3 linked regions of the Homo sapiens genome follow. The protein of the gene in region 3 interacts with the protein of the main gene of each other region in a pairwise test. Each region holds a gene or a part of one and is shown on either strand. Other genes may lie near its edges. The genes, in order: ZNF488, TOLLIP and DAB1.

The links.
Region 1: the proteins of DAB1 (region 3) and ZNF488 interact in binary tests that used the Homo sapiens proteins (3 or more experiments, as listed by UniProt).
Region 2: the proteins of DAB1 (region 3) and TOLLIP interact in binary tests that used the Homo sapiens proteins (3 or more experiments, as listed by UniProt).

The regions. Positions count from the first base shown.
Region 1 is NC_000010.11:47,382,515-47,386,264, forward strand, and holds the start of ZNF488 (zinc finger protein 488), read right to left. Parts: upstream 1,780-3,750; 5' UTR 1,706-1,779; intron 1,323-1,705; exon of another isoform or gene 1,220-1,322; intron 1-1,219. UniProt on the Homo sapiens protein: Transcriptional repressor. Plays a role in oligodendrocyte differentiation, together with OLIG2. Mediates Notch signaling-activated formation of oligodendrocyte precursors.
Region 2 is NC_000011.10:1,295,953-1,299,702, forward strand, and holds part of TOLLIP (toll-interacting protein), read right to left. Parts: intron 2,613-3,750; exon of another isoform or gene 576-2,612; coding exon of another isoform or gene 504-575; intron 1-503. UniProt on the Homo sapiens protein: Component of the signaling pathway of IL-1 and Toll-like receptors. Inhibits cell activation by microbial products. Recruits IRAK1 to the IL-1 receptor complex. Inhibits IRAK1 phosphorylation and kinase activity.
Region 3 is NC_000001.11:56,997,311-57,001,060, reverse strand, and holds part of DAB1 (disabled homolog 1), read left to right. Parts: intron 1-2,913; exon of another isoform or gene 2,914-2,932; 3' UTR 2,933-3,750. UniProt on the Homo sapiens protein: Signaling adapter of the reelin-mediated signaling pathway, which regulates the migration and differentiation of postmitotic neurons during brain development.

The sequences.
Region 1 (3,750 bases), on a different chromosome or scaffold from region 3:
AGCAAAGCAGACACGATGATTCTAAATCATTTGCAAAGTCTTTTATCCCTCCCCCCAGAATCCGCATATGTTGGGGATCAGGGATTAGATATAAAGGCAATTTAACTTTTTAAACCAGAAAAAAGCCTCACAAATCACAGTTCCATGCACATACCTATGAATTTGTCCAAAATATCTAGCATATGCAAATTCTTTCACTGAACACACTGCAATGCACCTTCATCATACTTAATTTCTGTTTAATTCTGTGTGATTTATCTACGGCCAAATTTCCATTTCTGTATCAATCAAAAGTAAATTAGTTGAATTTTCATTAAAGGTCATAATAAACTACAATATCATGTTAACTTATTTCCAAGAAGTGAAAGCTTCAACCTTTATTGGTAATTAAGATCTTTACAAACAAACAAGGGCTCTTTTATAACTTAGTGCATATATATTATGTATTTGTGTGTGTTTGAACATATAAATATGTATGTGTCATAAAATATCATTAAAAACTAAATCACATATCTCTGATAAGATTACATTGTAACCAAGAAACAAAAAATTGCCTCGATATAGTTCTATTTTATCCCTCAAAAAGAATGAGACTTGATTTTCTAGAGTTCGTCCCTTATGCATCTACGACAATCTTTGATACTAACAGGAAATATTTTCCCCTTGGCCCTCCTATCTAATGTACATAAAATCATTACTTTCAAATGCCATAATTACTGCCATAAAATGTCTAATGTCTCCCTCAGGAGTAATTAATTTCATTTCTGTACATCAGTGGCATTGGCAACTACATATTTTAGAAATTTACTGTTAATTTCTTATTTCCAGGCTCCCTCAAATGTTTCAAAGCCCTGGCCTCCCACTGTCTTCCTACAACCCTGCTCTGAATCCTGTCCCCTCCCTCCCCTGCACCTGGCATTGCATAGCCTGCCCAGAAGGCAGGTGTGGGTGGGAACGCCCCCTAAATGCTTCTGCAAGGCTTAGCTTCCTGCTGTGCTGTCTGTGTCTATTAGTAAAGGCAAAATGTCAAGGAAAGGATTCAATCAACCCCTTGTCTCTAAAACCAGGTATGTTCTTTTAGCTCATTCTAAAAACTCATTATAATGTGATCATTTGGTATTGTTTTGTTTCCCAGGAAAGGCAGTGAACAGGATACATGTCCAGATCTTTGGATATAATCTGTTGGAGAAAGGATCTGGGGCTGATGCATGGTTCTTACCCTACTGCCCAGCGCAAGCCCGGGCTGAGAATAACAGCAACACAGGATAAACCCCGGGAGAGACAGTGGGAGGGAGGAAAACAACTGCAGCCTGAAAGTCACCCTAGGAGAAAAATTCATAGGCAGAATTCTTGAGTGCTGAAAAAACAGGGGGGAGAGGGAGAAGGTAGGGGAGAAGAATAAACAAAGAGAGGAAAAGAGAGAGGGAGAGAGACTGACACAGAAGAAAATGAAAACAGGAAGACAATAAAGAAGAGATAGAGGAGAAAAAGTGAGAGAAGAGAAAGGGAACAGAAACGGGGATGGGACTCGGAGACGACGTGGGAGAGAGAGGAAGCTGGCGACATTGGGAAGGAAAGGACCCCACAGTCAAAGGCAGGACTCAACAACCCTGTCCTGGGGAAAGGCTGATGTGGAAGTGAGATGGACCCCGCCGCCCGCGCCCGCTCGCGGCTCTGTCCCTGCAGACAGGAGGGTGCGCCTCACCTGGGCTCTCTGGAGATGTGGAGCAAGAGGTGCTGGTGCAGCACAGCCTCCTCCCGGCCAAGAGCACTGCGCGTGGCTCTGAACTTGGCGCCGGAGCCCTGAGGGCGGCCAGATCCCGCCCCCAAGCCGCTCCCGCCTTCGGGGCGTGGTCTCGGCGTCGCCCACCCCCAGGGAAGCTCCAGCCTTCGGGGCGGGGCTTGCGGGTGGGCGGCCCCGGCAGGGGAGGGTGCCGCTGGCCAAAGAACTCACAACCCCGGGAGAAAACCCCCTTCTGACCCTCTGGGCTGCCCGGCCCTTCCCCGGCTCAGCTCCGCGGAGATGCCCCCAGCTGGCTTGGTCAGGGCCGGGCGCCATCGCCTGCGGGAGGGCGAGGGCGTTCTTTGGAGGCGGTGCCTGCTCTCGCCTACGCCCTCTGGTCCTGGGCGCCCGACCTCTCGCTCCTGGGCCCGCGGGGCCTCGGCGATGCGGGCGAGGGCTGCGCGCGGTGCCTGCGGCTCCAGTCTGCGCCGAGGACCCCCACGGCCTCCTGGCCCTCCTTCCCCCAGCAGCCTGGCGGCCGCTCGATCGGCACCTCCCCCCGCCGGAATCGCCCAGCTCCCCCCGGGAGCGCCCGCCGCCTCTGCTCCCCAGACCTCAGCTGTGACCACGCAACGCTCTGCCAGGAAGGCGGACTCCGCGACTCGGGCCATGGTGGAAAATGACAGTTAAAGTGCGTTAAAATTAAGAACTTATACTTTGATTAAAAAACAACAAACGGAGTGAAAAAGCAAGCCACACACTGAAAGAAGATACTTGCAGCAATTGATAAAGGATTAGTATCCAGGATATATACTTTTAATGAATTAGTGTGAAAGAGAGGAACACCCAAAGCAACGAATGGACACAGACATGAATAGGCACTTCAAAGAGGAACCACTAACGACCAAAATCATGTGAAAGGACGAAGTCTCTAGAGTAATTAGAAAATGCAAATTAAGACCACAAGGAGATGTTTAATCATTAGGCATAAATGTTAAAATATAATAATACCAACTGTCATGGAAGGCATGAAGCAAGGGAACCCTAATATGCTGGGGCGAAGTACACCCAATTTCATTTATTATAAAAGACCACTAATTTAAGATATTCTATTATACTAAATACAGCTCCAAAAGAGGGGGAAAAAACTGACAACCAACCAACTCAAATGCTTTTCATCACTTGTAATTTTTAAGTTATATAAAGAAAGATCTATTTTAGACTGTATTAATCCATTCTCACACTGCTATAAAGAATTGCCTGAGACTGGGTAATTTATAAAGGAAAGAGGTTTAATTGACTCACAGTTCAGCATGGATGCAGAGGCCTCGGGAAACTTACAATCATGGTGGAAGTGGAAGCAAAACAGGTCCTTCTTCACAGGGTGGCTGGAAGGAGAAGAATGAGAGAAGTGCAGAGTGAAGGGGGTAAAAGCCCCTCACAAACCCATTAGATTGCCTGAGAACTCACTCACTATCATGAGAACAGCACAGGGCAACCACCGCCATGATTCAATCACCTCCCAGTAAGTCCCTCCCCCTACATATGGGCATTACAATAAGGACTATAATTCAAGATGAGATTTGGGTGGGGAAACAGAGGCAGGCCATATTATTCCACCCCTGGTCCTTCTCAAATCTCATGTCCTCATATTTCAAAACACAATCATGCCTTTCGAACAGTCTGCCAACGTCTTAACTAATTCCATCATTAACCCAAAAGTCCAAGTTCAAAGTCTCATCTGAGACAAGGCAAGTCCTTTCCACCCATGAACCTGTAAAATCAAAAGAAAGTTATTTCCTAGATATAATGCAAGTACAGGCATTGTGTAAATACACCCATTCCAAATGGGAGAAATTGACCAAAACAAAGGGACTACAGGCCCCATGCAAGTTTGAAACCCAATAGGGCAGTCATTAAACCTTAAAGTTCCAAAATGACCTCCTTTGACTCCATGTCTCACACCCAGGTCATGCTGGTGCAAGATGTGGACTCCCACGGCCTTGGGCAGCTCTGGCCCTGTGACT
Region 2 (3,750 bases), on a different chromosome or scaffold from region 3:
GGGTCAAGGGTGTCCAGCCTGGGGCCTGGCCCCCAGCGGTACAGGTGCAGCCCTCACTCAGGAGATCCCCAAATGCAGGTTTCTGCCGCTAAAAATGGGTTCCTGTCCTCAAAGCCTGCTCAGGTGGGTTTTCAGGTCATTTTAAAGGGTCTCCCTTGCACCATGTGTGCCCACGGCTTCTTTCTCCTTGTCCACAGCTAAAGGCAGGGCCACTGAACTGCAGGTCACTTGGTCAAACGAATGAGACAAAAGCTGAGCCTCAGGTCTAAAGTGATTTGGAAAACCCTCTGCTGATATACTTCAAATGTTTCCACATGAAACAGCTGAAATTCAAAAGTATCCCAGAAGAACGCAGGAAGTAAATCGATTCCAAACAACCACGAAAGACCTCCCCACTCTGCATCCTATGTCTCCTCGACCCTCTGTCCACCACTGCCACTTCTGAGGGGAAGAGAGAGGATGGGCCCAGGCAGGACAATGCCATCCCGAAACCACCCGCACACCTGCAGCGGCCGAAGGGGCCTGGGGTAAACCATGCTCCACAGGTGAAAGGTCGCTGATGAGGCCCTGAGCATGGGTCTGGCTGCTGGTGGAGTGGGGTGGAGGCCTGGTTGCTGGAGGAGTGGGGTGGAGGCCTGGTTGCTGGTGGAGTGGGGTGGAGGCCTGGTTGCTGGTGGAGGCCTGGTTGCTGGAGGAGTGGGATGGAGGCCTGGTTGCTGGTGGAGTGGGGTGGAGGCCTGGTTGCTGGTGGAGTGGGGTGGAGGCCTGGTTGCTGGAGGAGTGGGGTGGAGGCCTGGTTGCTGGTGGAGTGGGGTGGAGGCCTGGTTGCTGGTGGAGTGGGGTGGAGGCCTGGTTGATGGAGGAGTGGGGTGGAGGCCTGGTTGCTGGTGGAGTGGGGTGGAGGCCTGGTTGCTGGTGGAGTGGGGTGGAGGCCTGGTTGCTGGTGGAGTGGGGTGGAGGCCTGGTTGCTGGTGGAGTGGGGTGGAGGCCTGGTTGCTGGTGGAGTGGGGTGGAGGCCTGGTTGCTGGTGGAGTGGGGTGGAGGCCTGGTTGCTGGTGGAGTGGGGTGGAGGCCTGGTTGCTGGTGGAGTGGGGTGGAGACCCAGCCGTCTGCAGGGGCCCCGGTCAGCGCCAGTGCCCTGGGCAGTTGTTTTCAGGAAATACCGAGTGGAACCTGGAACCCTCGGTGTGTCGGACGTGAGCTTAGGCAAAGTGCACGTGCTGAGGCCGCCAGAACGCCTCTGCCATGCACACCAGAAACCCGTACCTGCCTGTGCCATGGACTCCCAATGACACGGTGCCAGGCAGGGCTCCAGGAGGTTCTGAGTTAAGCCCTGCACCTGCTGTGCTCTGGGCGCCTGGCACTTCAAAGGACCCCGAGAGGGTCTAGCTCCTCACCTGTGTCCCCATCTAAGGCCTGGAGCGCACAAGCCAGTCAGCGCTCCACAACCAATGTGAGTAAACAGAAGGGACCCGGACGATCCAGGCACCGCTTCGAGCAGTTACGGACTCAGGACCCCCAAGTTCGGGAAGCTCTCTGCAGGCTGCACCCCAACCTGAGCAGCCAGCATGGCGTGTGCTCAACCGCTCTTCTCTAAAAAGCAAAACACACTTTGTGCGTTTCCCCACACTTTACCCCGTTTTTGACTGGGACACGTCACGAGTGACCTTTGCCCTGTGAGAGAAGCCGTACTGCGAGAACAAGCAGAGCACCCCGGCTTCACCTCCGGAGGGTGTGGCATAGGCCAGGGCCCGGAGGGACCCCCTGCCCTTACGGACAATCGAGGAGGGTGCAGAGGTGCCTGAGCGGAGTGGGCCCATGCCAGGAGTCCCAGGCCAGCCTCCCCCAGGCAGCCTCTCTCGAGGCGCTGTACAGCTCAACAGCAAGCTCTGGCTCAGGAGGGCGCTGAGAGGCCCCATGGCACGAGATGCTAAGCACCTGTTCCTGTTGGCACACAGGAAACACTGGGGTACAGAAGGCCAGGGCCCTTCGCCTGCCTCCCAGAAGGATTCACAGCCCAGAGCTCTCTCCCCGGGGGACACCTGGCCACACAGGACGTGCTTCCCTGCCAACCCCACAGGGCCCTGGCACAGCCCATGCCAGCAGGCTCTATGACTAGCTCTGTCTGCTCACCAGGAACGGGTTATCTTGCAGAAACAGACTCGTGCTAACCAAGTTCTCAGGACTAACATACACAGGCCAAATTCCTGTTTATTTGTGACAACTGCTTCCTGTGTGCCACATGCACAGCTCTGAGGACATGGCAGGAAAAGCACCGTATCTCCTGGGCACACATGGCAGACAGACAGGCGGCTCGTGCCCTCCTGGGCACACGTAGGGGACAGACAGGTGGCTCATGCCCTCCTGGCCACACGTGGGGGACAGACAGGCGACTCATGTCCCGGAGACAGCAGCATGGAGAAGCCAGTCGGGGGAGGGTGTGGGTGGTCACAGGGACGTGTGGGCGTGGGGTCCAGAGGCCTCTGAGGGAGCACTGTGGGTCCCTCGCTGCTCTGGATCCTGGTTGTCCCGGTATTTGAAGGCGTCCAGCGCTCCATCTCCTTGCTCTGCACTCTTTAGGTGTCCGTTAAAGACAGTGGGACTGCTCATTACTGGGAGAAAATAAAATTATATCCAAAGGCCTAATGATCAAGTGTCATTTTTCAACAAGGATTTAACCATAAAATGGCAAATAGGAAAAGAGGGTTTTTAAACATAAACCGTGTGGATAGAACACGAAAAGGGGAGAAGCAGCTCCCTGCGGATGGAGCTCATCAGCCCCACGCAGCCCGGGGACCGCAGCCAGCGCCATGTGGCGGGGCAGGTGCGCGTCCAGCTCCCCGAGATGACACACGCCTCACATCTGGGTTTTCTTCCCAAAAACCCACACCCCAATTAAGAGACATCTGACAAAATCCCTGACCAGTCAGTCGTCCTCAAACCGTCAAGGTCCCAAAAACACAAGGAAAGCCTGAGAGACGGTCCCAGATTGGAGATGGCAGACATGATGGCTAAACGCAAGGCAGGGTGCTGGGACAGCAGGGGACAGTCATCGAAAAACCAGGACAGCCAAATAAAACCTGGAGCCAACAGTCATGCCCCCAGCTCAGCGCCACAGCTGTGAGAGCTGTTCCCGGGGAGGGGAGCGTCGGCCAGGGGACATGGGTGAGACACACAGGACCTCTTCGTGCCAGCTTTTCAATTCGTCATAAGACTGAACACTACAAAATTCAAGGTTTTTCAGAAAAATATTCCATTTAACCTGAAGACAGGAAGAGCAAGAGAGGAGACGGAGACCAGGCTTCAGTCCTCCCCGTACAAATACTGGTTACGCAACCTGCTGCCCCGCCTACCAGGGAGAGGCGGCTTGCCTGCTGCTGCAATGCCCTCGTTTCTCAACTTAGAGCAAAGCCCTTCAAACGAGGAGGGAGTGCTACCAGTTCATGCTTCACGAGTCACAGGGGAGAGAGTCCAGGTGCTGAAGTAAACCCTATCGTTTCAGTGACGACACTCGGTCCTTCAGTAAATGTCTATTTTGAATTTATTTTTTAAATTCAGTGCTAATCCTAAAATTTATTTTTGCCATATGATGATGGAGGAACTATTTCAATGGTCACATAAAAATATATGCTTTACCCTGGTTCAAAGGCTTGGAAATATGAAAACAAAAATGATTACTCCCGATACATAATGGATATTTTTCTAGAATTTTGCTTCCATGTACAAGATGCACATACTGAGTTCAACACT
Region 3 (3,750 bases):
CTGCTGGGGGTTTTCCACACCACTGCTCCCCTTCATTAGTGGGGATAATTGAGAGTTGACTGCAGTCGTTACTGCTGTTGTGATGGGTATTTGAAGCTAAATTCGGGCAAGTAGGAGATGTGTGAATATTTATCTCAGCTGCAGAAACTTAATGCAGTGTGGCATTAATTACCCTGTCTGAGCCTGCTGTCTTCTTCTGTTTTTAGGTGTCATTTTCAGTTGGATAAATTAGTTTCCAAAATTAGAATAGAGCAAATTGTAGGGTGAGATCAAGGCAGCCTGACTTCTTGGGGCATCCAAAAAGAAGAATGAGCTGAGAACATCTATCCAGGAAACATTAATATGCGTGCTTGAAGCCCAGCACAGGCAAAAGGAAATATTTTTCCCCAGTAGTTGTACTTAACTATTTTTGACTCCACCTACTGCACTTGTAGAACACAAACACACAATAAAGTTACATGTTTAGCCTTACAACATGTATTTGAAATAGTTCAAGAGACTGGAAAGGAATAGATTTGGTGTTTAATAAATCATAATCTTACTATAGATTTTGCTACATTTGATTTTGAGAGAATAAAGCCAAATTGGAGTGTATTTAGGACAAAGGGATCAGAACTGTGAGGAAACTAGAAACAGCATTATAATCATTCAGTAATTCAACAGACTCTCATTGAGGACCTACTGTGCTAGGTTCATATTTGTAAAATGGCAGAAGGAGGCCTGGCGCGGTGGCTCACACCTGTAATCTCAGCACTTTGGGAGGCCGAGGTGGGCGGATCACAAGGTCAGGAAATTGAGACCATCCTGGCTGACACAGTGAAACCCTGTCTGTACTAAAAAATATAAAAAATTAGCCGGGCGTGGTGGTGGGCACCTGTAGTCCCAGCTACACGGGAGGCTGAGGCAGGAGAATGGTGTGAACCTGGGAGGCCAAGCTTGCAGTGAGCCGACATCGCGCCACTGCACTCTAGCCTGGGCGACAGAGTGAGACTCCATCTCAAAAAAAAAAAAAAAAAAAAAGGCAGAAGGAACTGGCAAGTGGTAACCTAGAAGTAGGACATGGAAGAATGGGCTTCCGTACTTTTCTGTCATCAGACATTTGGACGAAGGATTGTACTTATTTACATTTCCAAGGGCAGTAGAAAGTCTACGGGCAGAAGGCATGGAGGGACAAGTTGGCACTTTGTTACACTGCATAATAGGGTGCCTCCAAGGAAAGAAGTTCCTTCCCACTGGAAGAATACAAACATAACAAGTTCTAGAGGAACCAGAAATTGGATCTGATGGCAGGAGTCTTGGGGTCTACTCTTGGCATGGATACTAAGTAACCCTGTGACTCTGAAGAAACAAAAGCTGTCTTCACAGGACTTCAGATTCCTCATCTGTACAATGATGGGCCAGTACAACCTTATCTTCTAGGCCATTCCACTTTACAGTAGAAAGCAAGCAATATGATATGCTACACACAAGAGACAGCACAATGACCTTGAGATCACACAACCTTTCAGAACTTCAGTTTTTATCTGCAAAGGGAGGACTCAAAAAATAAAAGCCACCCTCAGGACTATAAGGCAGATAAATAAGACATGAGGTGCTTTGTAAACTCTGAAGCACCAATGGATGGAAAGATTGGGGTCTCTCTCTCTCTGTCTCTCCCTCCTCATGGTCACTGTTGTAAAAGATTAGAAAAAGCACTGGCCCCTGGACCCTGTTTTCAGTTCTCATGTCTCTAGACTTACTAGCTGTGTGACCATGGGCAAATTATCTAACTTCTCTGTGCTTAATTTCACCCTTGCAAAAGAGATAAAGCATCTGCCTTACAAGGCTGTTGTGATGAGATAAAAAGACAATGTACTTGAAAATACCTAGCATGGTGCCAGACACATGGTAGGGGCTCCCAGAATGCCAATTCATTTTGAAGTTTCAAGAAAAAAGCAAATAATAAGAACCTATATGACAAGGCAGGGGACAAGCTAATATATCAAATATGGTAAAATTAGGATTTCATTGTGCCCGTTTAATTCTGGCACAGACCTCCAAGAGTGACAGCATAAAGGTCAATTTTAACAGAAGGTCCTGTGCATGCTTAAAACCACAGTATCCATCAAATCTGCTTGGCCAAGGCACAATGAGCCATCTCAACATCAGCTGAAGTCTGACGGGGTTTAAATAGGGCCGAACGCTGTTTCCTATCTAGGTGTGGATTGCAGGTTTGCTGCATTACATGCTGGTTGAAAATCCCTGTATGTGTTTCAGGACAGCCCCCTGGGTGCAGGCAAATGACTGGCCAAAGTGGAGGGCTCAGACTGAATGGAAACAAGTCCAGAAGTTTGTGATTAAGAGACAAAGACACACTTGCTGTTTCTCTGGCTCAACAGTGCACCCAGGCATCACTATTTGTAGAAGAGCAATTTGAAATAGAATTTCAGGGTTCTCAAGTGGACATTTATGAAACTGTGTTGGAAAAATGTCCACTTGTCTCATGGTAATTGTTAGCAATTTCTGAAGATGTATTGCTAGCAAGCATTGTGCTAGATACTTTATATGTGTAATCTCTAATTCCCTCAAGAACCCCGTAGGATAAACAGTACTATTCCCATTTTGTGGTTGGAGAAACCAAGACTCAGGATAAGTATCTTGTCCACATGACACAGCTTTTCTAACTCTCCCTACTATACCATGCTACTTCCCTAACAGGGCAATCAGTTCCAACTTGAAAACGAAAGACAGAACTGAGTGCATAGCTATTTTGGATAATAAAAATGTTGCCAAAATGTTATGCACCCTGATCAAATACTCCAAAAATAACCTAAGGTCATCCATCATAAACTGTCACTTTTCTGTTTTAATCCTAAACCCCTTTTCCCAAAGCTGTCTCAGAAAATCCATGCAAGTGTAAAGAGCAGGCCTCACTTTGTTCCTTTATCCACAGGAGCCAGAGCCTCTGTACGCGCAGATCAACAGACCTAAGAAATAGCATCGATGCGAGCTCGTGGTGGGTGCTCAAGACTGGCATGGACATCAGCATCACGACAGGCTCTCTTGTATTCTTTCACCTCTTCCCACAAGAAATTCATGATTGCCCAATGGAACTCGCTCAGAAGAGGGAACTAAGCATTTTTGGCAACCAATGGCAGATATCTATGGCAGCACACAAAAAAAGTATAGAAAGATCCACCCAACATTAAATCAGAAATCAAGCAAATGCTTACCCAACAAATATTTGAGCCCTCATAGCTGGGTTTAAGATGACTCAGTGTGCAAAATTATTAATTCCCTTTTTATTTCTCTACCTGTTGACCACTGTTGAGACACCAAATTTGGAGTGACAGGCATCAGAGGATTACAACAGGGTTGGAACTGACTTCTTTAAGCAAAAGCAAAGGGTCTTCTGTGACCACAATATCGTCATCCATATGCCTTTTCACATAGGATGATGTGTTTTTTGTCACTCCATGGGGCCTGGTCTGCCATTTTCCCCCCTTTCCTTTTTTTGTCATGTTTGAAAATTAATAGGTGTACAAATTTTTGTATTGCTTTTGACTTTTTTTAGATATGGGTGAAGAAATCTAACTGGGGAGAAAAAAAGCCTCAGTGAAATGAATTAACTTGAAATTACAAGACAAATAAGTGGTTGATTATTCATTATGATCACGAATGTTGCCAAAACAGTCCTTTAGCTATTCTGCATCCTGGTGAAGAAAGACAGCTTTCAGTACGAACCTTCATTCTGTGAGTAGGAAAAGACAT